7 linked regions of the Homo sapiens genome follow. The protein of the gene in region 6 interacts with the protein of the main gene of each other region in a pairwise test. Each region holds a gene or a part of one and is shown on either strand. Other genes may lie near its edges. The genes, in order: GORAB, SPAG4, GOLT1A, CPLX4, SLC39A2, NRM and PARP15.

Evidence for each region.
Region 1: the proteins of NRM (region 6) and GORAB interact in binary tests that used the Homo sapiens proteins (3 or more experiments, as listed by UniProt).
Region 2: the proteins of NRM (region 6) and SPAG4 interact in binary tests that used the Homo sapiens proteins (3 or more experiments, as listed by UniProt).
Region 3: the proteins of NRM (region 6) and GOLT1A interact in binary tests that used the Homo sapiens proteins (3 or more experiments, as listed by UniProt).
Region 4: the proteins of NRM (region 6) and CPLX4 interact in binary tests that used the Homo sapiens proteins (3 or more experiments, as listed by UniProt).
Region 5: the proteins of NRM (region 6) and SLC39A2 interact in binary tests that used the Homo sapiens proteins (3 or more experiments, as listed by UniProt).
Region 7: the proteins of NRM (region 6) and PARP15 interact in binary tests that used the Homo sapiens proteins (3 or more experiments, as listed by UniProt).

What each region holds. Positions count from the first base shown.
Region 1 is NC_000001.11:170,530,690-170,534,965, reverse strand, and holds the start of GORAB (RAB6-interacting golgin), read right to left. Parts: upstream 2,801-4,276; 5' UTR 2,743-2,800; coding exon 2,682-2,742; intron 2,519-2,681; exon of another isoform or gene 2,357-2,518; intron 1,503-2,356; exon of another isoform or gene 1,315-1,502; intron 1-1,314.
Region 2 is NC_000020.11:35,618,829-35,621,594, reverse strand, and holds the end of SPAG4 (sperm-associated antigen 4 protein), read right to left. Parts: intron 2,673-2,766; coding exon 2,597-2,672; intron 2,401-2,596; coding exon 2,285-2,400; intron 2,017-2,284; coding exon 1,849-2,016; intron 912-1,848; coding exon 822-911; intron 720-821; coding exon 573-719; 3' UTR 501-572; downstream 1-500. UniProt on the Homo sapiens protein: Involved in spermatogenesis. Required for sperm head formation but not required to establish and maintain general polarity of the sperm head. Required for anchoring and organization of the manchette.
Region 3 is NC_000001.11:204,203,989-204,207,488, forward strand, and holds part of GOLT1A (vesicle transport protein GOT1A), read right to left. Parts: intron 1-3,500. UniProt on the Homo sapiens protein: May be involved in fusion of ER-derived transport vesicles with the Golgi complex.
Region 4 is NC_000018.10:59,294,902-59,298,275, reverse strand, and holds the end of CPLX4 (complexin-4), read left to right. Parts: intron 1-1,350; coding exon 1,351-1,578; 3' UTR 1,579-2,874; downstream 2,875-3,374.
Region 5 is NC_000014.9:20,997,813-21,002,092, reverse strand, and holds SLC39A2 (zinc transporter ZIP2), read right to left. Parts: upstream 2,801-4,280; 5' UTR 2,647-2,800; coding exon 2,532-2,646; intron 2,352-2,531; coding exon 2,221-2,351; intron 1,978-2,220; coding exon 1,927-1,977; intron 1,147-1,926; coding exon 514-1,146; 3' UTR 222-513; downstream 1-221. UniProt on the Homo sapiens protein: Transporter for the divalent cation Zn(2+). Mediates the influx of Zn(2+) into cells from extracellular space. The Zn(2+) uniporter activity is independent of H(+)-driving force, but is modulated by extracellular pH and membrane potential.
Region 6 is NC_000006.12:30,688,185-30,692,187, reverse strand, and holds the start of NRM (nurim), read left to right. Parts: upstream 1-1,203; 5' UTR 1,204-1,213; coding exon 1,214-1,346; intron 1,347-1,357; exon of another isoform or gene 1,358-1,844; intron 1,845-1,944; coding exon 1,945-2,141; coding exon of another isoform or gene 2,142-2,163; intron 2,164-2,717; coding exon of another isoform or gene 2,718-2,735; coding exon 2,736-2,912; intron 2,913-3,245; coding exon 3,246-3,527; 3' UTR 3,528-4,003.
Region 7 is NC_000003.12:122,608,650-122,612,149, reverse strand, and holds part of PARP15 (protein mono-ADP-ribosyltransferase PARP15), read right to left. Parts: intron 1,657-3,500; coding exon 1,420-1,656; intron 1-1,419. UniProt on the Homo sapiens protein: Mono-ADP-ribosyltransferase that mediates mono-ADP-ribosylation of target proteins. Acts as a negative regulator of transcription.

The sequences.
Region 1 (4,276 bases), on a different chromosome or scaffold from region 6:
TATTAGGGCTATTTGTTACTTTAGCTTAACTTGTCTTAACCTGATTTCATAAATACCAATACCTCTGAAATTCCCTCTCCCTGATCACATTCCCACGCCTCCCCACTATATACAATCATACGTCACTTAACAAAGGGATACATTCTAAGAAATGTGTTGTAAGGCAATTTTGTCCTTGCGCAAACATCAGAGAGTGTATTTACACAAACCTAGATGGTACAGCCTACTATATACTTAGGCTATATGGTACAGCCTTTTGCTCCTAAGCTCCAAACCTGTACAGTATGTCACTATACTGAAGACTGTAGGCAACTGTAACAACGGTATTTGTGTATCTAAACATAGAAAAAGCATAGTAAAAACAGGGTATTATAATATTACCAGACCATCACCATATATGTGGTCCGCTGCTAACTGAAATACTGTTATTGAGTGCGTGACTGTATATATTATATATACAGCTAGCTGATCCTTGGTATATGAGGATAATTGGTTCCAGGATCCCCATGTATACCAAAATCTGTGCATACTCAAGTCCCACAGTTGGCGCTGTGAAGACCACATACACCAAAAGTTGGCCCTCCATATACTCAGGTTTTGCATCCCCCAAATACTGTATTTTTTAAATGCACATTTGTGTATAAGTGAACCATCACAGTTCAAACTTGTGTTGTTCAAGGGCCAAGTGTAACTACATATACTGTATTAACAAACATTTTAATGCATGTGGCTACAGTTAATACTAATATATTCCCACCAGCTGTACAGTAGCCCGCTAGATGAGTATACCACAATTTATTTATCCATTCCCTTGTTAATGGACACTTTGGTTGTTTCCAACTTCTTAATATTATAAACAAGACTATTAACAACTTTCTTGACTATGTTCCTCAATGCCCATACAGGGGTCTCCAGAGTACTACTGTCCTTATTTTTCCTGGCAACCAACTCCATCTTCCTAAATTATTCAATAAATTTTTAAAGATAGAGAACAGCTAGAAATGGCTTTAAAATTAAAGGGCCAAATCCTCTAATTTTACAAATAAGGAATCCAAGGAGAAAAGATTTAGAGGAAGAGCTGGAAGTTCTATATGCCAATCACTGTGTTTAGCTACGGGTATACAAGGAGGTTAAGATATTTTCCGTCCTCGAGGTGGTCACGGACTAGCGATTTGGTTTCCACACTACAGTGGGCCTTGAAGTTCAGGTCCTCACCATCCTCTATCTACCCCCGGTTGCAAAGATATTTCAAAATATACTTCTACATAATGAATATGTTGTTTAATTTAGATTTTTATATTAAGTCATCTTTACCCTGGAAAATGCGCCTCTGCTAACACACAAACTTTGTGAAATCTTCCCAAGCTCCATCCAATCCCCGGCAGAGTGAGGTTCCTCTTGTCTCTGAAGCAAGTTCTTGCAATATCTACTATCACATAACTTTGTGGTTTGTCTCCTCATGAGTCTACTGGAGTCAGACCAGAGGCCAGGGCACTTGTACCCTGTATATCAAAGTATGTGAATGGATGTTGAAAACACAAAGCAAAAGAATTTGAGTATATCAAGCAACACAGAGTCAGTTAACTACATAGCTTAGCCTAACCTTTATGATAGAGTTTTTAAAGTCCCCTGGACCAGTCAAAATGTCCCCAGTCGATATAATCTACATTGGCCCTATCTTACTAATTTACTTCTTTTCCCACTTGTCTGCCCTAGATTATTCTCATATTTATGCTAAAAATGCACAAGCTACCAGAGCAACATCCAATTTCCCCACAAACGCTAACAAAAGGTTTACTTCATTTGCTACCAAAATAAAGTATTTGAATTAAGGTACCAAGAGTGATGTACACTTCTTACAGAAATTGTGTGTACTACCACGATAACCATACAGATCACTGCGAAATTTCAACCACAAGCAAAGTGCAATTAATATTACTAAGTTTTCCACCAACAATCAGCAAACTTAATTCCTTCCACAACAACAAAAAAATTGTACAAGCCCATTCAATGATTACTCTATAAAGCCAGAGAGAGAAGCACAAGGTTAGCTTACTCCAAAGTCAGTAAGACTGTATGTATATAAACATATAAAGTCTTCACATCTACCCTCTCAAAGACCCTTTTGGTTTGCTGATTCTCAAAAATTGGGAAGTACTGCAAAAATCATCTGGCAACCAGAAGTGAATGCAACACTCCAGATGAATTGTGAAAAGTACCGAATTTTTGCCTTTATTCAGACGCCTGTGCTCCTTTTTTCCAACCATCTGCTTCTATAAATTCATCACAATTCTAATACGGTGTGCGCCCCTCCTCCTTCCCTTACCCTGACCCTAACCTTCCAACCGTTGATTCCTGCAGCAATCTTCCCTAAGGGAGACACCCCGGCTGTAGGCTCACTTCCTCTCCCAAGTCCCATTCCTTTCACAAGAGTCAAATCCCTACAGTGGATTCCTGGACCGTTTTTTCTAAAAGAAGATCCCAGTCCTCTGGCTTGCCCCTCCCGTCGTGACTCCCAGTAAGTCCTCCTCTGAAACCCCCTAATCCAGTCCACGTACTTACAGCGCCTTCCGCTAACACAAACGTAGCCGCTTCCACGCCCCCTTTCCCCGCCAAAGCTGCATCCCCGCCTCTTCCCCTTAAGACCCAAGAATTAAACCACTGTAAACCCATCTTGTAACCTTTAGTCTGCTTTAGTCTCCTCAGTTCCTCCTCAGAGAATCCTGCCCAACCTTGCGCCATCGGCCCGGGCCACCGGCACCCCCAAAAGTGCCCAAATCTCGCAGCCGCGACTGCCAACACTGCTGCCCAGCTCATCCGGGTTTTTCCCCGGCCGCGGCCAATCAGTGCATCGGGCTCCAAACACAAGGCCCTCTCTCCCCGGCCTCAGGGTCCGGCTTCCTTCCAGGCTGCCTTCAGCAGTGCCTGACAAACTGCCTAAGGAAACCTTGCCACGCAGACATTCGTTTCCTCTGGCTTACCTCTACTCTCTCTCTCTCTCATTGTTTCTCACTGTTGCTGGTTAATCGCTTCAGGAGCTAAGGGGGGAAATGGCGATGGGGATAAGGGTGGAGATAAACAGGTATTTGGGAAGGAGCAACAAGTCGGTGGCGGAAACGGGAGATCTAAGTGCCTTTGGGGTCCTGTACCTGTGGGGCGGGAGCGGTGCTCTCTGTGGCTCTTAGTGTGCCCTAAAATCCTTGTGTTTTGCTGGGAGTGTGCACAGCGCTGGAGGCCTCCTTCAGATTAACTCAGGAAATGATCAGATTTAGGATTTTGATGATGAAGAAACATTTAAAAGGGGTGGGGTATAATTGATGAAAAGGGAACAGGCATAACCAGGTCTCTCGCAGGCCGGAGCGGCTCTCAGATTTCTTTTGCTTTGGGTTGTTTCCTTTGTGAATAATTATAATATGTAACTTTCCTCTTAAGGGATTTCTTTTTCTTTTTTTCTTACTTTTTTTTTTTTTTTTTTTTGAGACATAGTTTCGCTCTTGTTGCACAAGCTGGAGTGCAATAGCACGATCTCGGCTCACTGCAACCTCCGCCTCCCGGGTTCAAGCGATTCTCCCGCCTCAGCCTCCCGAGTAGCTGGGATTACAGGCGCCGGCCACCACACCCGGCTAATTTTCTGTATTTTTAGTAGACACGGGGTTTCACCATGTTAGCCAGGCTGGTCTCGAACTCCTGACCTTAGGGTATCCGCCCGCCTCGGGCTTCCAAAGTGTTGGGATTACAAGCGTGAGCCACTGCGCCCGGCCGGGATTTCTTAGTCTCCCCTTTAAATCTGTTTTTCAGAGAAGACATTGTAAAACGTCGGTGCTGGGGGATGGGAAAGCATTTCTTAGGATCCTGCCTGGAATCCTAATACCGTAATTCGGGTTCTGCCTTGAACACTAACCTGAGATCCCATTTCCTCATTTGAAATATGGTTGCAAAGATTAAAAGATGCAAGCGTTGTCAAAATACACATAGATAAGGATGATTCAAGAGAGACCTAGTTATACTATTTTTCATGGTTCTCTTTCACTATTTTTGCAGTAAGAACAACAAAACACCTCATCTTGGCTTACATTTTAAAATACTTTGGCTTTAGTGTGTTGATATTTTTAAACAAAATGAAAGAAAGGAGTAAAGTACAAAATAAAACACGTCAAGAAAAGTTGAAATGAGTACTTCAGATTTAGTAAGTGATAAAAAGTGAAGGATGTTTGGAATTTCCCATGTAAATCCGAGCTTTTAAAACTTAAAGTGGTTTCTGAAATTTGGGGATGCT
Region 2 (2,766 bases), on a different chromosome or scaffold from region 6:
TAAGACAACCTATGTAGGGGCTACCAGGCCTGCATCAGCTCTGTGACTCAGAAGCTTCCTAGAGGTTATCAAGTCTCCTTAGCTTTTGAGTGTGTGCCTGCAGAAGGTGGGTAGCTACCCCTCCACCGGTACCTAGCAGGAGTTGGGGACTTTCCCACTGGGGCTGGGAATTGAGCACAAAGGTGGGTTCAGGCTGCCTGCAGCTCTGCAGTTAGAGGACTGGCTCTGGAGGAAGGTGGGCCTGGGTACTGCTCTGTCACTGCCTTTCACTAGCTGTGTGACATTGAACAAGTTTCCTGACCTGAGCAGCTTCCCTTTCTGGTTGTGAGAATGAAGTTAGGTAATGTGTGTAATGTCCACAGCACTGTTTCTTGTACGTGGTAGGCACTCCATAAACAGGAGCTGCTATTACGATCTTGATCAAGACTTCTCCAAGAAAAGAGGGTGCATTGGGAAGTCAGCCCCTCCATACTTAGATGCAACGGCAGCCAGAGCTCTCCCAACAGAGCCCCCGAAAGCACTGATCCAGTATCCTTCAGCAGAACTCAATTCTACTCCAAAAATCAGCATGTTTAATGGGGCCCCTGTGCACTGCCCTCTGCCCCCTCTGAGGTTCGCACACCGTGGGCACGGACTCGATACAAGCACGTGAAACGGGGGTGGCCCCAGTTGCTTAGAATCTGGATCTTCACCTTGGGAAAGGCAGCTGGGGGGTCATTCTGGGGAGACAAATGGATCATGCCAAGGGCTGCCCTCCTCCTGGATCATTCATCCCTCACTGCCCCACTCCCTTGGCACCTTCACCCTAGAGACAAACACACCTGCAGGTGGAAAGTCTGAATCTCCGATTTCTCAACATCGAAGGTGAATTTCCCCAAGGAAACTTCAGTTTCATCATAAACCTGGAGGCCCTGGTGGGTGAAGAATGAAAGGAGGAACTATGAGGGGGACAGGTGGGGCGGGGGGGGCGGGGAGAAGAAAACTTTGCTGAGGATCTTCTGTGTATTCAATAGCTATATGCATGTTCTCATGTATTTTTTGATGGTCGTACACTGTAATTCAGAATGTGGGCTCTAAGAAACCAGGTTTTATTTATTTATTTATTTTGAGACGGAGTGTTGCTCTGTCACCCAGGCTGGAGTGCAGTGGTGAGATCTTGGCTCACTGCAAGCTCCACCTCCCGGGAAGAAACCAGGTTTTAAATTTAATCCTGCCAACTGTTAGTTGTATTACCTTGGAAAAATAACTTCCCCTCTCTGAGCATTACTTTCTTCATCTTTAAAGGGGGAGATAACAGTACATCATAGGTTGTTATGTGGGTGCAAAGCAGGCACGGTGGCTCATGCCTGTAATCCTAGCATTTCAGAAGGCCGAGGAAGGCGGATCACTTGAGGTCAGGAGTTTGAGACCATCCTGGCCAACATGGTGAAACCCCATCTCTACTAAAAATACAAAAATTAGCCGAGCATGGTGGCGCACGCCTGTAATTCCAGCTACTCGGGAGGATGAGGCACAAGAATCGCTTGAATCCTAGAGGCTGAGGTTGCAGGTGAGCTGAGATGGCACCACTGCACTCCAGCAGCCTGGGTGACAAGAGCGAGACTGTCTCAAAAACAACAGCAAAATAAGAATGCCTGTAAACTGCTTGGCACGGAGTAAGTGCTTTGCAAGCAATAACTAATATCTGGATATGGTTATGACTATAACCTACAGCAGCTCTGAGAGGCAAATAGTAGTATCTTCATTTTATAGATGAGCAAGCGAAGACTCAGATAACGGCACCAGTTCTCAAGACTGCTTGGGCTCTCTAGGCAAAATCCCCCACCTCCTGACCTCGTCCGCACTCACAAAGACCGCGAAATCGCGGGGGGCGCTGTTGGCTCCTCCGGTGTGCTCCACGCTGGGCGGTGGATGCTGCAGAGTGATGTCGCTCAGCTGCACTCGGCCCGGCAGTTGGATCACCACCTGGCCTTGGTCGCCTTCAAAAGCCCAGCAATTCCCAGGGAACACGTGGGGCTGCAGGCGGGCGGAGGGACCATCGGAACCGTCGGACAGAGCGACTGCTGCCGCTCCCCAGCCCGGGCCTCAGCTCGACCCCATCCATCGACCCGCCCAGAGCTCCACCTCCAGCCCGCCCCAGTCCCCAGCAATGCCAGGTCTCTCCTTGAGTTAAACGCCATCCTCCACGCCCTCGGCTCAGCCAAGCTCCGCCTGTAGGGCGGGGTTTTGGTGCTTTTCCCAGCGTCCCGCCCGGGGTCCCATCCCGGGATGTTTCCAGACTCACCTCCAGGATAACCGTGGGCGGCCGTGCGTAGTTCCAGAAGCTGAAGCGATTCCAGAAGTAGGCAGTGTTCCTGTCTGCGTAATCGTGGGATGTCTTCTGCAGGTCGATGGAGGCTCCTGGAACAGTGAGAAGTAACCCTCAGAGGCTCCCAGGCCTTGCCGGGAGTCGGGGCGCGGGGGCGCGGGGGCTGGGGGCGGGTGGGGGCTGTCCGAGGCTCTGTCTTCGGCCGGTCAGGTGCATGGGTCTGTCTGTGTCAGTGTCTTGGCCTCTTTCCTGTCTGCGTCTCTGTCTTCCAGTGTCTCCGGGTCTTACCCACAGAGCTCAAAGCATAGTCGGGCTTCCGCACAAAATCCTCATTCAGCCTCTGGAACACGAGCTTGGCCACTCTCTGCAAGGAGGGAGGGCGAGGCCTGGAGGGGCGAGGCTTGCGGGCTGCTTTTACAGGTGGACGGGACCTCTGGGAGCTGGTTGCTTTGGGATGG
Region 3 (3,500 bases), on a different chromosome or scaffold from region 6:
TTCAGATCGCTCCCCTCAAGACGATTTGTACAATAACCGGATATATAGTTCCTTTTTTCCTTAACCCTCTCCAGCACTCAGAATTGTTCATTTTACTTATCTTTGCCACTATGATAGTCAATAAATAAAAATTCATTCTGTTGCTTTGTTTTTAAATTGTTACCTTTTTAAGTTTTAAATTGTGGCAACGTGCACATAAAATGAGACTTACCATCTAACCATTTAAAAATGTACAGTTCAGTGGTATTAAGCGCATCTCCTGAATTCTTCGTCTTGCAAAGCTGAAACTCTACACCCATTAAACAGTAGCTCCCCATTCCCCTCCCACCAGCCTCCAACAACCACCATTTTACTTTCTCTATGAATTTTTGACTACTCTGGGAACCTCCTATAAGTGGAATCATACAATATTTGTCTTTTTGTGACTGTCTTATTTCACTTATCATAACGTTCTCAAGGTTCCTTCATGTTGTAGCATGTGTCTGAATTTTCTTCCTTTTTAAAACAGAATAATAGTCCATTGCTATCTGTACCCTGCATTTTGTTGATCCATTCATCTGTTGATGGACATCTGGGTGGCTTCCATCCATCTCTTACCTATTGTAAATAGTGTTACCATAAATATGAGCATAAGAAAATATCTCTTCAAGACACTGCTTCCGATCCTTTCAGGTATATACCCCACAAAGTGGAATTAACGGAATTATACTGGATCACATGGTAATTCTATTTTTAATTCTTTGAGGAATTGCCATTTTGTTTTCCATTGTGACTGCACCATTTAACATTCCCAGCAACAGTACACAAGAGTTCTAATTTCTCCACATCTTGCCAATACTTTATCTGTTTTGTTTTGTTTTGATAGCAGCCATGCTAATGGGTATAAGGTAGTATACATTGTGGTTTTGACTTACATTTCCCTAATGATTAATGATTAATGATCTTTTCATGTGCTTGTTAGCTATGTGTATATCTTCTTTGGAGAATTGTCTAGTTAAGTCCTTTGCCTATTTTTTAAACAGGTTGTTCTTTTTGTTGTTGAGTTGTAGGAGTTCTTTATATATTTTGGATATTAACTATGTAGCGTATGATTTGCAAATATTTCCTCCCACTCTGTAGGTTACCTTTCAGTCTGTTGACTGTGTCCTTTGATGCGGTGAAGTTTTAAATTTTGATGTAGTCTGATTGATGTCTTTTTTTTCTTTTGTTGTCTGTGCTTTTCATGTCATAACCTAGAAATCATTATCAAATCCAGTGCTGTAATGCTTTCCCCTATTTTTTATTCTAAGAGTTTTATAGTTTTAGCTCTTATTTTTAGGGCTTTGATCTGCTTTGAGTTACTTTTTGCAGATAGTATAAGGTAAGGATCCACCTGCATCTTTTGCATGTGGATATCCAGTTTTCCCAGCACTATCTGTTGGAAAGACTGTTCTTTCCCCATTTCATGGTCTTGATGCCCTCGTCAAAAATTTTACTGGACTTGTTAGAATCAGTTCTCATAACCTCTATGAAATTGGTATTATTATTATGCTTTTGCAGATAGTTGTTAAAAGTGAGGGGAAAAATTATTCTGGTGTTTAGAGGCAGAATTGTAAAAACAAAAACAAAATTATCAAGACTAGATTTACTGGCTGAGTTTTATTTACAACTGAAAGAAAATGAAACAACATAATCATCTTCTGGGTAGTTAATCCATCATCTGTTGCTATGCAGATTTTAAGAGGATTAGGATCAATTCCAATACAGAAAAAAGGTCAAAGAGCTTCTTTAAAAGAATCATCAAAAATACAGCAATGAAGCCAGGTGCTCAATGGCTCACACCTGTAATCCCAGCACTTTGGGAGGCTGATGTGGGTGGATCACTTGAAGTCAGGAGTTCAAGGCCAGCCTGGCCAACATGGTGAAACCCCGTCTCTACTAAAAATACAAAAATTAGCTGGACATGGTGGCATGCGTCTCTAGTCCCAGCTACGTGGGAGGCTGAGGCAGGAGAATTGCTTGAACCCGGGAGGTGGAGGTTGCAGTGAGCCGAGATTATGCCACTGCACTCCAGCCTGGGTAACAAGAGCAAAACTCCATCTCAAAAAAAAAGAAAACAGAAAAATACAGTGATAAGATCTAGCATTCAAATTATAGACTGAAACCTTGCTCAACTCATAGTCTGGTATCATGCCAGTCTTACTGGATCTCACTTTTGGCAGAAGCTGGATTTTGTTGGGACCCAGTGTAACATAATTTCTCTCAACATATCACCCAGCTGCCCAGAATCCATTTTCTACTAAAAGCTGATTCCTTGTGTTCCTGACAAGCCTCGTGATCTATTTGGGCTTGTTTCCTACTTCTACCTCCTCCTGCTGGCCTGAATTAAATCTCTTAGAAGCTGGGACAGCTCAGCAGAATATCACCCCCATGGGTCATGATGAAGGTTGTGTTTTGTCAACATTTCCATCCTCAGAGACAACACATTGAGAATCTAGAGTTACATCTACCTGAATTACCAAGATAATTTCGTGTAGGTCAGAATATTGTGGAGGAAGACCACAGTCATCTTTCTTTAACCCAAATGATAAAAGTGTTTTAGGTTTTTATGCTTGTTATAAAATATCTGTTGTTGGCTTATGCCTGCCATAAAAACATCTGTCATTGATTTCAGCTCTGACTATACACCCTTTCCTCCCCCTCAGTAGGTGTATTTGTGTGGAAACACGATGTGCACATTTTACGGGGTTTTCATTTCGTTTTGTTGAACTTTCTATATGTTCATCCTGCACACACTTAAGAACAGCCTCATACTCATTTTGTGGAAACAGCGTAAGTTTCTCACATTCACACATGATGTCCATTCTCCTGTTTATTCCTTCTTCTTCTGCAGCAGTGATTTGCTGGCTGCCATAGTTATCCCTCCTCCACCTGTTCTACACTCTTCTTTAAGGGCAGATGCAATTCCAGGACTCTCCTGTGATGGGGGCAGCCTTCTTTATGGGCCACACTTAGTGCTCTCAGTGCTCAGTGGGACACGAAACCCCACAGAAAAGGGTCAGAAACTCTGTTTCTCACACACAAGCTTCAGACCCGCCTTTGCCTCTTGCTTCTGGAGTAGCTTAGCTATTTTAGTCAAGTTATCCAGCCAGAGGTTACTCCTAAAGTTCTTTTCAGGCAGCAACCATGGCAGAAAGAGTGGAGGGGTGGGGATGTCATACAGATGCCCCCAGGAGTGACAGGTGTGCCTGCCCGGCACGGTCCCCGTGATCCAGACAGATTGGGCAGCGCGCCCTCTGCTGGAGGCGGCCAGGGCTGTCACGCCTACACCCAGCCGAAAAAAGCTGGGAGGCCAAGGTAACTTCAGGGAGGCCCGGCTCTCCAGGCGCCACCTAGAAGTGGAGACCTCCCCAGACCTCAGAGACCAGCTTTAGATCTCCCTGGCAAGGTACACTGATGGCTGCACTGGTGCCCTTGTTTAGCTCCTTGCTCTGCAACTCCCGAGTTGCTGCCAAGAAGAG
Region 4 (3,374 bases), on a different chromosome or scaffold from region 6:
CCTAAGTGGTAAAAGAATCTCAGCTGAGTATGGGGGTGCATACCTGTAGTCCCAGCTACTTGGAAGGCTGAGGTGGAAGGATTGCTTGAGCCCAGGAGGCCAAGGCTGCAATGAGCCCAGATTGCACCACTGCACTCCAGCCTCGGTGAAAGAGAGAGACCCTGTCTAAAAAAAAAAAAAAATAAAGGAATCTCAAAGACCAGGCAGCATGCATTAAGAAATTCTAGAACAGACACTCCTAAAATCACAAAATGAAATGTGCAAGGCGCTTGTGACAGCGTCAGCAACACCGAAGGCTAGACTGCCAGTATGCTGAGTGGCGGCCATGCCCTTGATGGTTCACTTAATACATGTGTACTGTGTGCTAGACTCCAGTCCAGGTGCTAACGGTGGAAAGTTGAATCTGACAAGAGCCCATGACGGGCTCCCTGTCTAGTGGAAGGGAGGAAAAGAGCCATGATTAAGAAAAAGTTGCCACTAAGGTGTGATGAGTGAATTAATGCATACTGTCTAGTTACTATAAACTGAGACCTCATCCTCTACAGTGGGGTCAACCAGGTGAGTGGGTCTTGGCATGGGGCTGATAGAATCTGCAAGACTTGCAAAGCTGCCCTTAGGCAGAGTTGGGGTGTGATGCCCCAGCTTTTGTGTGTATCAGCATCACAGAGAGAAAGACATTCTTAAAAATCCAGATGGGGTTGGGAGTGGTGGCTCACACCTGTAATTTCAGCACTTTGGGAGGCCGGGGTGGTTGGATCGCCTGAGGTCAGGAGTTCGAGACCAGCCTGGCCAACATGGTGAAACCCCGTCTCTACTAAAAATACAAAAAAATCAGCTGAGTGTGGTGGTGCACACCTGTAATCCCAGCTACTGAGATTTACTGAGGCAGGAGAATTGCTTGAACCAAGGAGGCAGAGGTTGCAGTGAGCTGAGATCGAGATACTGCACTTCAGCCTGGGCAACAGAGCAAGACTCCCTCTCAAAAAAAAAAAAAAAATTCCAGATGGCTGGGCTCCATCTCCAGAGTTCCTGATTCAGTGGGTCTGGGATGGGGCCCAAGAATTTGTAGTTCCAGCAGGCTCTAGATGATGCTAATGCTGCTTGTCCAGAGACCACACTTGGAGAACCACCATGCTGGAAGGTTCTGATCGACGCAAGGTGCCATGAAGAAAGGACCCCCCTACAGAAGCCCCCACAACTGCCATCAGGACCAGGCTCTGCTGCAAGGCCAAGAGTGCCACTCACTTCCTGTATTCTCTAAAGACCTTTTCCTGCTGCTTTTAAAATTTATTTAGTTAGTGAGTTAGTAGTTTAGAGTTATTTATCTATCTCTATTTATTTTTCACATAGAGTGAAATGGATGAGAATCAAATCCAGATGGCTGGAGATGATGTGGATTTACCTGAAGATCTCCGGAAAATGGTAGATGAAGATCAAGAAGAGGAAGAAGATAAAGATTCTATTCTTGGGCAGATACAGAATCTCCAGAACATGGACTTGGATACCATAAAAGAAAAAGCCCAGGCCACCTTCACTGAAATCAAGCAGACAGCGGAGCAGAAGTGTTCCGTGATGTGAGGGGTGGGAGGGGTGGAGGGAGGGAACCAGCCATCCTTGGAAAAGACCACTCTCTTGTGGGACGTTTCAAGCAGTACATGTTTTAATGTAGTGAACACAGTTAGGAAAACCACGATGATCCATTGACAGACAATAATTTGGTTGTTCTAAATATTCCTGGCAGAGCATTTAGCTAACACCTTGCAGCGGGAACCTTACTTTCCTTTTAGTTATAAATGAGATAAACTGGAAAATTTCAGTTGTAAATGATGATGCAGAACACATATCTGCTTAAAGACCTTGAGATGAGCCAGGAAGAAACAAAAGCAAGGGGCATTTCCTCTCCAACTTTCTTCCTTGGAGGCCAAGTTCTCACCCTGTCCAACTATTCGCAGGACACCAGGTCCCTTCAGAGAGAAATGTGGAGAGTCAAGGTGTCTACTGGGAGCCGGGTTTCCCACAGGGAGCTGAGTCTACAGACTCCAGGGCAATCAAAGGTCACCACCCCCACCCCTCACCTCTAGGATCCTTGAATTTGTCAATGATACTCATCAAGTATGCTTGGATCCTTTGGTCCTTGGATGCTTCTCAGCCAAGTGGCGGTAGCACAGATGTGGTGAACAATGACGAATTGAGGCAGGGAATAGACCTCACTAGCCCTTTGCAATGGAGATCATCGTTCTAGTGGCCATGTGAAGAATGGAACCAAGGGAGGCACAATTAGAGGCAGAGGGAAACCAGGCAGACGGCTGCTCTTTTTGAGTTGAGCTTAACTCTCCTTGTCTGAACTTGGTGATAGCAATGGGAACAAAGTGGGTAGACTAACAGAGAGCATTAAGAAGTTAAATCAATCTCTCTCTGTCTCCTCCCAACCTCTCTCTCTCTTTCATCCCCTTCTCTCCCTATCTCTCTTTTTTTTTTCTTCTCCTGTCCCTTCCCATCCCACCCCTTTAGACTACCTTCCAGTAAATCACACTGTCATTTGGTGCCACAAGCTTTCAGGGTAGACACTGATTTTTCCCCCCTAATATCTGCTCTCTTTCAAAAGGAATAATTCAAAAGACTTAGGACAATTACCACTGAAACACTTCGAGCTATTTAGCTAAAGCCCACCAAACCAAAACAAAATACTGATTTTTTTTTTTTTTTTTGGTGACTCTGTTCATACAGTGAATAAAGATCTATCAAAGGAAAAGGAAACTGAGACCGAAAACTTAGGGTCTAAGTTGTTCTAAACCCAGGGTTCTCAAATGTGTTGTACAAAAAGTTTCATGTAATAAAATTAAGCAAATAAAACAAATGAATAGAGGTCCAAAACCTATGGTCCTTGGCAAAGTTTAATCTGTCTTGGAAATTCCTGGGAGAACATTGGTGCAATGATTGAGGCTGATTAGCCTTCTAGTCCACAAACCCAGATGCCATGGGCACATTTTAAAACTGTGCTTGTCTTTTATCAGAAATGGCATGTGAGTTGTGATTTGTTTTATAGCAGAAACTTTAAAAAACTCACTTTTTTAAAAACTACAATATAATAGATAACATTTATTTTCAGTTTAATGCCTGACTCTGCCCTGTAGTTGGTGAGGTGGGTAGTATGGATGGGTGAGAGGTGCTGTATGTGGCCTGATATCTGTACACTTTGTATGACATAAAATACTACAGCTGCCAAATTGTTCCACACTCTAGCCTCAGGATGACAAAGAAGATGTGCTTTCTTGTAAAAGATGCAGCCAGTTCTGCTAAGGAAATCACTAAATTGGCACTTCCTCTTGACTGCCAACATTACTCCAATGCAATTTGGTCGTTGTCTCAATGAA
Region 5 (4,280 bases), on a different chromosome or scaffold from region 6:
AACTGGCTCATTTTCTCAACTACAGTGGGTAAGGTGGGAGGGGAATTTTAGCAAGGTGCCATGTCTAGGGGTGTGGCTGCAACTGACAGGATGGCTAGGAGCCCTAATTCCAGAATAAAATACTGCATTCAACACTCATCCTTCCCATTCCCCATTCCACCACTTCCTGTGCCAGGTAGCATCTAGGCAACCAGGAGAAATGAAATCCAGAATGGCTGAAGGAGGGTAAAATGGGCATTTTATTACACACAGTAGCATAAATGGGATAAGAATAAAATCTGGAGCGTCTCTGTACCAATTCTCCAATTAATAGCTGCTCAACCTAAATATCTTTGTCTTAGTCCAGGGTGAGAAATGGGATCTCATGTAAAGGAAACCTGGGGTCCAGTCCAGTCCTACTGAATGCTATTTAGTCTGAGTAAAGAAATGTCTGAGGGTCAAAGCCATTTGGGAGGTCTCCCTGGGGATAGAGAGGTTGTCCTAAATAGGTCCATCAGAAAAGCCAGGAATCTCTCAGGCCCACAAGGCAATAAAGGCCATGAAGGCAAAACCAGCGGCTACACAGCTCCACTTAGCTAGAGGGGCCTCAGGACTAGCTAGCTCCCGTGGAAGAATTTCTAGGAAGGTGACATACAGGAAGGTACCAGCTGCCACACCCTCTAACACAGCCTGGGCTAAGCCCCGCCCTCCTTCAGAGTCCCCTCCAGTCACAGCCAGCCCTACGGCTAGGCCCAGGGGGGACATGAGAGCTAATAATAGTATGGAGAACACTGCCCATCGTGAGCTGGTACCTAAATGCACTAGCCGCATTCCTACACCAAACACCACAAGCCCCTTATGAGCCAGGACAGCAAGGCAGAGCTGCACGGTAGCTGCTACTGTCGGCTGCAGCCCCACAGCTAGCCCTTCAAACACTGAGTGAAAGGAGAGTGACAGCAAGAGGACAAGGGCTCGGAGGGGACCCTTTGAGGGTGAGGGTAAATGTCCATGGCTGTGGAGTTCGAAGATATGAGCCCCACCCCATTCTTCGTCCTGCACTGTCGATCCTCCAGCAGCCCCAGGACAGCACTGCAATGCCAGCGACTCCAAAAAGAAGACAAAAAAGAAGCCCAGGGAGATGATGAGCTCTCCATAGGGATACTCCATCTAGAAACAAAAAGAAGGGCTGTGAGATGGAAAGGAAGGGTAGGCAATACATTGGATGGACATGGAATTGGGAGATTGAAGAGAATGAGAAAATGTGGTAACAGAACACAAAAAAGGGTAGGGGAAATGAAGCCAAGAGTAGACATGGCCATGCAACAACAAGAATGCCAGAGTGGGCCGGACACAGTGGCTCATGCCTGTAATCCTAGCACTTTGGGAGACTGAAGTGGGCAGATCACTTGAGGTCAGGAGATTGAGACCAGCCTGGCCAACATGATGAAACCCCGTCTCTACTAAAAATACAAAAACTAGCCAGGTGTGGTGGCACGTGCCTGTAATCCCAGCTACTCAGGAGGCTGAGGCAGGAAAATCACTAGAACTCGGAAGGCAGAGGTTGCAGTGAGCCGAGATTGTGCCACTGTACTCCAGTCTGGGCGACAGAGAGATTTCATCTCAACAAACAAACGAAAAACAACAACAACAAAAGACTGCCAGAGGGGCTAAGGGACAGAATCTCAATAGAGTTAAAAACATGGGCAAATGATGTGAGGTATATCAGAGGATCCAGGGAAAGAATGAAAGAGTAAAACAAGGGCTTTCCCTGGCATTCTATAAACTCAAAAGGATTGGATTTGCTCCTCTTTTCCTCTACGATGTCTGAGCTAGGGAGCAGAAGGGATTCTTGGTACTCCTCATGTATTCCTCTCAAAAGGGTCTGGATATGAAAGGCCTCTCTGGTTCTCCTCACTCTCCAGATAGGGGATGGTGGGAGGTACTTACATGAGCTGAATCAGCATCACCAGAAGAATTTCTCTCACTTGCTGATCTGTTCTAAGAAGAAAGCAGCAGAAATTAGATGTGGGATGGAGCAGCACAGCTTCCTGTGCTGTCCCTTCAGCAATTCTGTTTTCCTTAAAGCCTAATCTGACTTGCTTTCACCATCCCACACAAGAGCTGTCATTTTCCTTGTCGTTCCACCCATGTCCTTGGCTCCATCACTTTCCCGCTCTCTTCCCTTTGTCCTGTTTATCATTTTGGCCTCATAGACCTGCGGCTTGAAATCTCTGCTCTCACCTGCACCATGAACTTCTGAATCTGTGATTCAATTTCCTCCAGGGCTTCAGCAGTCATATGCATGAACCCTGCTCCCAGGAAAACACCAGCAGAAATACAGCCCAGGAGTCTGAGGACTAGCCGGTGATGACCTAATAAAAAGCAGAAGTTACAACCCACTTGACACTGAGGAGACAGACAAAGGTGAGTAAAGAGCAGCAGGCAGCACTCAATATCCCAAGGTTGGGGATGGTGAGAGAATCAGAGCAAGGTATCAGGACAGGGTTGAGGTGAGACTCAGGCTATGGAACAAAGATGGGGTAGGGCTATACCTCTGGCTGCATCAATCTGGAACCATTTGAAGCAGATGGGAGTAAGGCCACAGCCCAGAGTGAGAGCCAACAGGGCAAACAGGCAGCCAAGTTTTATTCCTAGTAGTTGCTCCATCTCTGGGGTGTAGGGTAAGCCCAGGAGTCAGAATGACAAGGGAGCTGTAATCTTTGGAGCAGGAGTGGTATCTTAGGTGGTCAACACTGGAGTGTCCACTCTCGTGAGTTTCAGGAGGCTGTTGGTATCTTCTTTCTGTGTTGCTTCTGCTTCTGCAGCATTGCAGAGCTGACAGATCCTGCCCCAGCTTCTAGCCCTCCCCCTGCATGGAGGCCCCTCCCCTGGTTCACGCCTTCCTGAGCTTGGAAACCAGAAACTCCAGACTCCCTGCCAGGCACAGCCCAGTGGCGTCTTCTCCTCCTCTTCAATGGCATGACTAATCCAAGAGCTACGGATAGTCTTAGTTCATGTGCTTGGGGTTGGTCTAATCCAAAATAGGAAAGTCTATGGTAGCTGCTTCCCAGCTATTTTGTACTGGGGACAATCTGGTCCTGTCTCACTCAGGACGTTTGATCTAAGCCTTCCATACCCTCTCCACCTCATCCCAAGTCTTATAGGTTGCAATGCTGATACTTGAACCACCCGCTTTCAGAGATTTGGGGCCACCTGGAGGTAAAGAGGTGGGGCTGAGAGGTGGTGCTGGTGCTACTCTGTGGGAACTAGTACCCACATGAGGGAACTACCCTTTCCTGTAACCCCAGAAAAATAGCTCCAGGCATGGAAATGTCTAGTGGTAAGTTGATTTGTTTTTTTTCTTTCTCTTTTGATTGGGATCAGTTTTGAGAGGAATGAGTTGAGATGTCTGGTATTACAACATTTATACTGTTACAACTTCTAACTGTGCCTGTTTCCTGGTAAGAACTGTGGAAAAAAAGACATTTAAGGTTTAAGACAAAGGAAGCTGCTCTAGCCCTGAAACAGCAAGGCTTAGGGGAAAACAGAAATGAACTGAGTGAATGGGAGGATTCTACCTGGATATAGAGAGGTGGGGGTAGAAGATTCAGTTCTGATGGGAATCACTCTTGATGGAAATGTCTGGGGCATTTCCCATACATACTCTAGGGTAGCTGAGGGACCCTGGGAAAGACAGAAGGGAAGGCGTTAGTACAAGAGGCCAGGCAGCTGCTGATTCCCCTATTCAGGTGGCCCACATAACAACCCTGAGACCTGTTGAGCCAGTTCTCAGAGCTCTGGAGGCAGCTTTCCTTGCTACTCCAGATTATTTTCCTAGGGAAGTCCTGGCCTCTGGTAGAAGCAGTATTCTTACAGTGTTACTGGATGATTCTTACAGTGTTACTGGTCCTGCTGCTTGTTCTTGTGGTCCGGTAATGAGATGCAGACAGACAGACTGGGAAAGACGGGAGTTTATTTCTGCAACTGATTACAGGGAGGTCGGAGTAGCACACCAGACCAACTCAAAGTTACAAGCTTTTCTTTAGCTTTTATATACAATTCAAGCTCTATGACTACCTGCGGGAATGTTTCCTAATTAATCTAAACTAGGGGTCTGCAGGTAGAAGTTTTTTTTTTGTTTTTTAGAAACAAAGCAATAAACGATTTGATTTAGAAATAAAACCATTCCCATTATTGCAGCATTATCATCAGTCACTGATTGCTAATGCTGTTTACGCTTCTTTTTCCCTGGGATGTCTGAACCTGGCAACTTTTCTTCCTGTTCTTCTATTTTCTTAGCA
Region 6 (4,003 bases):
TTTTTTTTTGAGATGGAGTCTTGCTCTGTCGCCCAGGCTGGAGTGCAGTGGCGCGATCTCGGCTCACTGCAAGCTCTGCCTCCCGGGTTCACGCCATTCTTCTGCCTCAGCCTCCTGAGCAGCTGTGACTACAAGCGCCCGCCACCGCGCCCGGCTAATTTTTTTTGTATTTTTAGTAGAGACGGGGTTTCACCGTGGTCTCGATCTCCTGACCTCGTGATCCACCCGCCTCGGCCTCCCAAACTGCTGGGATTACAGGCGTGAGCCACCGCGCCCGGCGAGAGGACTTTCTCAATAAAAACTGTGACTTTCATTGATACCGTCCATTTGGGACAACTTACTGAAGCAGAAAGCAGGGTGGAGACTGAATTCAAGGGAAAACATAAGATGTCTGGTACAGCATACAACAGCATTGATTCAGAGGAGGGTGGGAGTACTGAGCCCAGGAGACGGAGAAGGAATGTAAAGCCTGCGAGAGGCTGCTCAGCAATTATCTGGTCCCTTAGCCTACAGGATTAGCAGCTTCCTAACTCAGGCAATTATCTCTCTGGACCTGTTTCTTCTATCTATAAGTTGATGGAATTAGTCTAATGATATCTAAGGTCCCTACTATGTGTACGTCTACTGTGACAAGGTCCTTAGCTGCATGATCTTTAATTCTGACAAAGGTTACTATCACAAATATTTTAACATGTTTATTCTCGTGGTTACTAATCAACAATCTCTGGCACTATTACAACAAACCTTTCAGTATTTACAGAGAAGTTATTTGCCATTCTTAGCAACTGGCCAGTCAACAACTCAACTTTATAGTAAGTTACAGAATTTATTCTGTATATTGTATTCTGTACAATGTATTCCATACATTAATTTATTTTGTGGTAAAACAGTAACTTTTCATTTTAGATGGGAAAACTAGACGAGCTGAGATTCAACCCACGTGAGCGGCTGCAGAGCCGCTACCCTTAACAGCTCTCTCTCGGGATTCTAACATTCCCTTCTGTGACGGAGAGACAGCAGGCCGGGACACGCATCCCAGGACGGATCCACAGCTGGATGGGGAAGGCTGCGCCAGGCGGGCCGGAAGCCTGGCGGTGGCGTGCAGGAGCCCCGCCCTCCTGGGCTGGATTCAGCCGGGGGCGGGGCCGCGGGCGGGGCCTGTGGCAGCGGGAATCCCGACCCCGCCCCTTTCCCCACCCCTCCATTTCTCGCCATGGCCCCTGCACTGCTCCTGATCCCTGCTGCCCTCGCCTCTTTCATCCTGGCCTTTGGCACCGGAGTGGAGTTCGTGCGCTTTACCTCCCTTCGGCCACTTCTTGGAGGGATCCCGGAGTCTGGTGGTCCGGGTGAGCGGGAGGGATCGAGGATGAACTGGGAGGAGGAAGGTGGAGCCGTAGGAGAGGGATTGAGGGCGGGGCTTGGAAACAAATGACAGGGGAAGTCCAAGAGAGGGAACTCGAACCTTGAAAGCGGCCGAGAAGCTACAGGGGAGGGAGACCTGAGTTCTAAATTAGGAACTCAAGGATTAGAGTTTTGGAGAGGCGGGAGAGTGAGGACTGAGGGAGCCGAAAAGGGCGGTGACCGGAGTATTCTAAGTAAAGTGTTTTGTAGAGAGGACTGTTGAGAGGAGAGTGTTAAAAAGAAGGAGCATTTGGAGAACCGAAGTAAGAGGGGCAATCCAGCGTGGCCTCTCCAGCCATGCTTTTTGCAACTGCCTAACATGTGGTGTTCTATAAATCCTCTTCCCCAGGTTTGCAGGAGGCCTAGGGAAGAGGGCAGAAACTAGGGATGGAAAAGTGAGATGGGCACAGCCTAGAGAGGAAGCATTAAGGCTCTTGAAAGCAGTAAGGGACATGGCCTGGGGATCCAAGAGGAGATGAGGGTGGGGGAAACATTCTGCCACTGTTTCGATCTTTTGTCTCTTTTTCCCTCAACTTCCTGTAGATGCCCGCCAGGGATGGCTGGCTGCCCTGCAGGACCGCAGCATCCTTGCCCCCCTGGCATGGGATCTGGGGCTCCTGCTTCTATTTGTTGGGCAGCACAGCCTCATGGCAGCTGAAAGAGTGAAGGCATGGACATCCCGGTACTTTGGGGTCCTTCAGAGGTCACTGTATGTGGCCTGCACTGCCCTGGCCTTGCAGGTATGAGGCCCTGGCCTTGCAGGTATGAAATCCTGGCAGTTGAGTCCCCAAGGGAGACCAAGTGTGGGAGGGGTGCCGTGGATTGGAGGGGCAAAATATGGGTTCAGGAGGAGAATTGAGGAACTAATCTCAGCTTCCATTCCTCCACAGCACATATCCTACTTTTTATCAAGAAGGGTGTACTTGTCCTTCCCTAAGCACAAGATATGCTTCTCACCTCTGCAACTTTGTTTATGTCCTGCTTGAGATCCCTTCTCTTCAGTCCTACCCTTTCTTCAAAACCACTTCCCTAGGTCTGAAGAGAAGGCCTTGTCTGTCTTTTCACTGGGTGGTTGGCACAGGCTACTACTTTGCGTAGCTATCAGGTCACCCCATCTATTCTATAAGTTCTCAGGGTAGAGACAGGCCATCCTTACATCTTTGGGACCTCACCCAGCACGCACCCTCCACATGGTGAATATTTGGTGGTGATGCTTAGGAGAGAGGTGGGGGAGAGTTGCAGGCTAGCCTGTGGTGGGGGCAGATCTGGGTCTGGGTCTCCCAAGGTCGGGCAGACTAGGCCACTGGGATACCCAGCCCCTTATCCTTCCACAGCTGGTGATGCGGTACTGGGAGCCCATACCCAAAGGCCCTGTGTTGTGGGAGGCTCGGGCTGAGCCATGGGCCACCTGGGTGCCGCTCCTCTGCTTTGTGCTCCATGTCATCTCCTGGCTCCTCATCTTTAGCATCCTTCTCGTCTTTGACTATGCTGAGCTCATGGGCCTCAAACAGGTGAGGCTCCGAGATCCCTACCTATGACCTCTGACCCATTTTAGAACTCCTCGTTCCCTTTCAAGGGTTTCCCTCCTCCCATGCTCTTCTACTGTCTCCCTGCTTCTCCCTCGTGGCCCTTCCCTTTGACTTTCCCTCGTAAGGGCAGCAAGCATGGGCCTCCTGGGCCTGGGGAAGGTACATGGATCAGAAGTCAGGATCAGGGATCCAAGTCTCAGAAGGGGGGTTCCTGGGCCTGAGTTCTAGAAGGGTGGTGCCTGGAAGAGGAGGAAAGAAGTGCCCAAGATGAGAAAAGGGCTTGACTCCATTTCTAAGCTCTTCTCCCTCTCTTAGGTATACTACCATGTGCTGGGGCTGGGCGAGCCTCTGGCCCTGAAGTCTCCCCGGGCTCTCAGACTCTTCTCCCACCTGCGCCACCCAGTGTGTGTGGAGCTGCTGACAGTGCTGTGGGTGGTGCCTACCCTGGGCACGGACCGTCTCCTCCTTGCTTTCCTCCTTACCCTCTACCTGGGCCTGGCTCACGGGCTTGATCAGCAAGACCTCCGCTACCTCCGGGCCCAGCTACAAAGAAAACTCCACCTGCTCTCTCGGCCCCAGGATGGGGAGGCAGAGTGAGGAGCTCACTCTGGTTACAAGCCCTGTTCTTCCTCTCCCACTGAATTCTAAATCCTTAACATCCAGGCCCTGGCTGCTTCATGCCAGAGGCCCAAATCCATGGACTGAAGGAGATGCCCCTTCTACTACTTGAGACTTTATTCTCTGGGTCCAGCTCCATACCCTAAATTCTGAGTTTCAGCCACTGAACTCCAAGGTCCACTTCTCACCAGCAAGGAAGAGTGGGGTATGGAAGTCATCTGTCCCTTCACTGTTTAGAGCATGACACTCTCCCCCTCAACAGCCTCCTGAGAAGGAAAGGATCTGCCCTGACCACTCCCCTGGCACTGTTACTTGCCTCTGCGCCTCAGGGGTCCCCTTCTGCACCGCTGGCTTCCACTCCAAGAAGGTGGACCAGGGTCTGCAAGTTCAACGGTCATAGCTGTCCCTCCAGGCCCCAACCTTGCCTCACCACTCCCGGCCCTAGTCTCTGCACC
Region 7 (3,500 bases), on a different chromosome or scaffold from region 6:
CAGGAGGTGGAGGTTGCAGTGAGGTAAGATCGCGCCACTGCACTCCAGCCTGGGCAATAGAGTGGGACCCTGTTTCAATTAAAAGAAAAAAAAAGAAGAGAGAGAAAGAGAATCTCAACTAAGACATAAATATGCTGTCCAGTTGTGGTGGCTCACACCTGTAATCCCAGCACTTTGGGAGGATGAAGCAGGCAGATCACCTGAAGTCGGGAGTTCAAGACCAGCCTGACCAACATGGAGAAATCCCATCTCTACTAAAAATACAAAATTAGCCAGGTGTAGTGGCACATGCCTATAATCCTAGCTACTCGGGAGGCTGAGGCAGGAGAATTGCTTGAACCCGGGAGGCGGAGGCTGCGGTGAGCCAAGATTGTGCCATTGCACTCCAGCCTGGGCAACAAGAGCAAAACTCCATCTCAAAAAATAAATAAATAAATAAATAAATATGCATAAAGTCATAAAGTTGACTTGAAGGAAATATAGTAAAATGTTAACTAAAGTTACCTCTTAAGGCCAGGCACAGTAGCTCATGCCTGTAATCCCAGCACTTTGGGAGGCTGAGGCGGGTGGATCACTTGAGGTCAGGAGTTTGAGACCAGCCTGGCTAACATGGTGAAACCCCGTCTCTACTAAAAATACAAAAATTAGCCAGGCCCCGTGGTGGGCACCTGTAATCCCAGCTATTCAGGAGGCTGAGGCAGGAGAATCACTTGAACCCGGGAGGCAGAGAGGAGGTTGCAATGAGCTGAGATGGCGCCCCACTGCACTCCAGCCTGGGCAACAGAGCGAAACTCGGTCTCAAAAAGAAGAAGAAGAAAACAGTTATCTCTTGGTGGTTGGATTATTATTTTTATTGTCTTTTTGTACTTTTCTATATTTTCCACAATGTATTTGTATTACTTTTTTATATTCTGAAAAAAAGTTGGGAAATTAAACTGGTAGTGGAGGTGGGAATGATGTTATCGAAAGAAGGGCACTGACTCTTTTTTCTTCTTCACCACAGTGCTGGGCGCACCTCTTTGCTGTACTGAAAGATTATTACATTACAACTTAGACACCACTCCTGTAGAATCCCAATGAATGTTACTACCTCCAAGGGTCAATTACTTGGAAATAACTGGTAGTTGTGATGAATTCTCCATGGAATGTAATAAAGATTTCAATAGATAGACAGGGTTCAATCAATACGAGGGTTTCACAGCCTAGGGCAGACACTTCTTTGTTGTGGGGGCTGGTGTGTGCATCATAGAATATTTACCAGCATCCCTCGCTTCTACCCACTAGATACCAGCAGCAGTTGTAACAACCCAACTGTCCTCTGTGGGGCAAAATTGCTTCCCTTGAGCACAGATCTATACCACACCAGAAGGAGATTCCCAAAGCCACCCAATACGTTGGAGAACTAAGAGCGTTCCCTACCTGCCAAGAAGTCTCTGCTCCATTATTCCAGTATGGAGCCACAGCATGGAGCACAGCTTTGCAGTCCAGATTGCAGCCGCTTGTCATGAATATGTTACCTACTTTTTCCTCTGTTTCCCGCCTTCTGTCATCTAACTCTTTCTGGAGCATGGGACCAGCTTTCTGCAAAAATGCCCGAGATAGTGGTCCTCCTCCAAGCTGAAGATTCATGGGAACGCTGTTGACAATGACATCGGCCTTAACGAAAATAGCAACAGTTAGAGATTGAATCAATAATACATAATGATGGAGCAACTGTAAATTTACTAAGTATTGTGGGGTAATGTACAGATATGTTTTGCCTGTCATACTAACATGTCAGCCCCACCCTCAAGGAGCTTACAGTCTATTGTTAGCACTGAAACACCATGATGAGGTTACTTCCAAAACTTAGACATTAAGGAAATATATTAACCACTGCTGTGAAATCAACACGTAATGAGTCAGAGTAGAGCTATGAAAATGAGTCAGAGACCAGAGGCAGAGAGTCAGAGACGAAGACTGAGAGAGAGAAATGGAGAAAGAAGAAAAATGAAAGTGAAAAACAGAGACAGAGACAGACAGAAACAAAAACACAGAAAGATTGAGACAGAGAGACAGGGGAAGGGAGAAAGAATTGCTCTCAGCCTGGCAGGAACTGAGAATACTTGTTTTGAATTTAACAATATACCAAAAGAAAGACTAGGTCAATGTGAAGGAGGGTATGGTCGGCCCTGAAGGCCTTGGCAAAGGAAAGTCACTAAGGTGAGGGTAGGCAGTATCCATTCTAGCCTGTCCAGGGATGTTGAGTTCTCCAGTGTCAATGCTAAGGCTGTTCCTTTGGTGAAGTGAGGGTCATAGCCTAATGCCATGAGATGTTACATATTCAACTCATAACTCCTATTACTCAGATTTTGTGCTCACCAGAAACCTTCTGATTCCCTGGTAAGTTGGGAGTAAGAGGAGACAAACACTCTCATCGTGTGGCCTTTTTTTTTTTTAATTTTTTTTTTTTTAAACACGATTTCGATCTGTTCCCAGGGCTGGAGTGCAGTGGCATGATCTCGGCTCACTGCACCCTCTGCCTCCCAGGTTCAAGCAATTCTCATGCCTCAGCCTCCTGAGTAGCGGGGATTACAGGCATGTGCCACCATGCCTGGCTAATATTTGTATTATTAGTAGAGATGGGGTTTTGCCATGTTGGCCAGGCTGGTCTTGAACTCCTGATCTCAAGTGACCTGCCCACCTTGGCCCCCCAAAGTGTTGGGATTACTGGCATGAGCCCAGCCTGATCATGTGGATTTTTAATGTCCTGGTTCTTTGGGGAACTCTTCTTCATTGTAAATTAAAAGATGTCTATGTCTCTGGGACATATAATAGGTTATATTTCTCAACCTAATAATCGGCATTCTTGGATCCACTTATATAATGTTAGTTAGCATATGAGGTATTATATGAAGTTAGCATAAACTAATCTCAATATCTGAGAAGCCCCTTGCAGAGACAAGAGTGAGCAAGCCATCCAAGAAACAAAACAAAACAAAACAAAACAAAATTAGATCTAGCCCATGTTCTCCTCACTCCCACTTGCAGTTTCACTCTCCATTTACTGATTCCTACACAGTTTAGGGAAGCAATATATTAACATGTAAAAAAATAGGCTGGGTGTAGTGGTTTACTCCTGTAATCCAGCATTTTGGGAGGATGAGGCAGGAAGATCACTTGAACCCAGGAGTTCAAGACCAGCCTGAGCAACACAGTGAGACTTTGTCTCTACAATTAAAAAAAAATTAGCTAGTGGCCTGTATTCCCAGCTACTTGGAAAGCTGAGGTGGGAGGATTGCTTGAGCCTAGGAGGTTGAGACTGCAGTGAACCGTGACTGCGCCACTGCACTCCAGCCTAGGTGACAAGGCAAGACGCTATCTCAAAAAAAAAAAAAAAAAGTAACCTTGTTGTAATGTTTAAATCAATTCAAAATAATCAAAAGACATTGTTAAATATACAAATATTAGTTGGTATAGATTTCAAAAAAGATAGGAAATCATTTAGATTGGAATAGTGA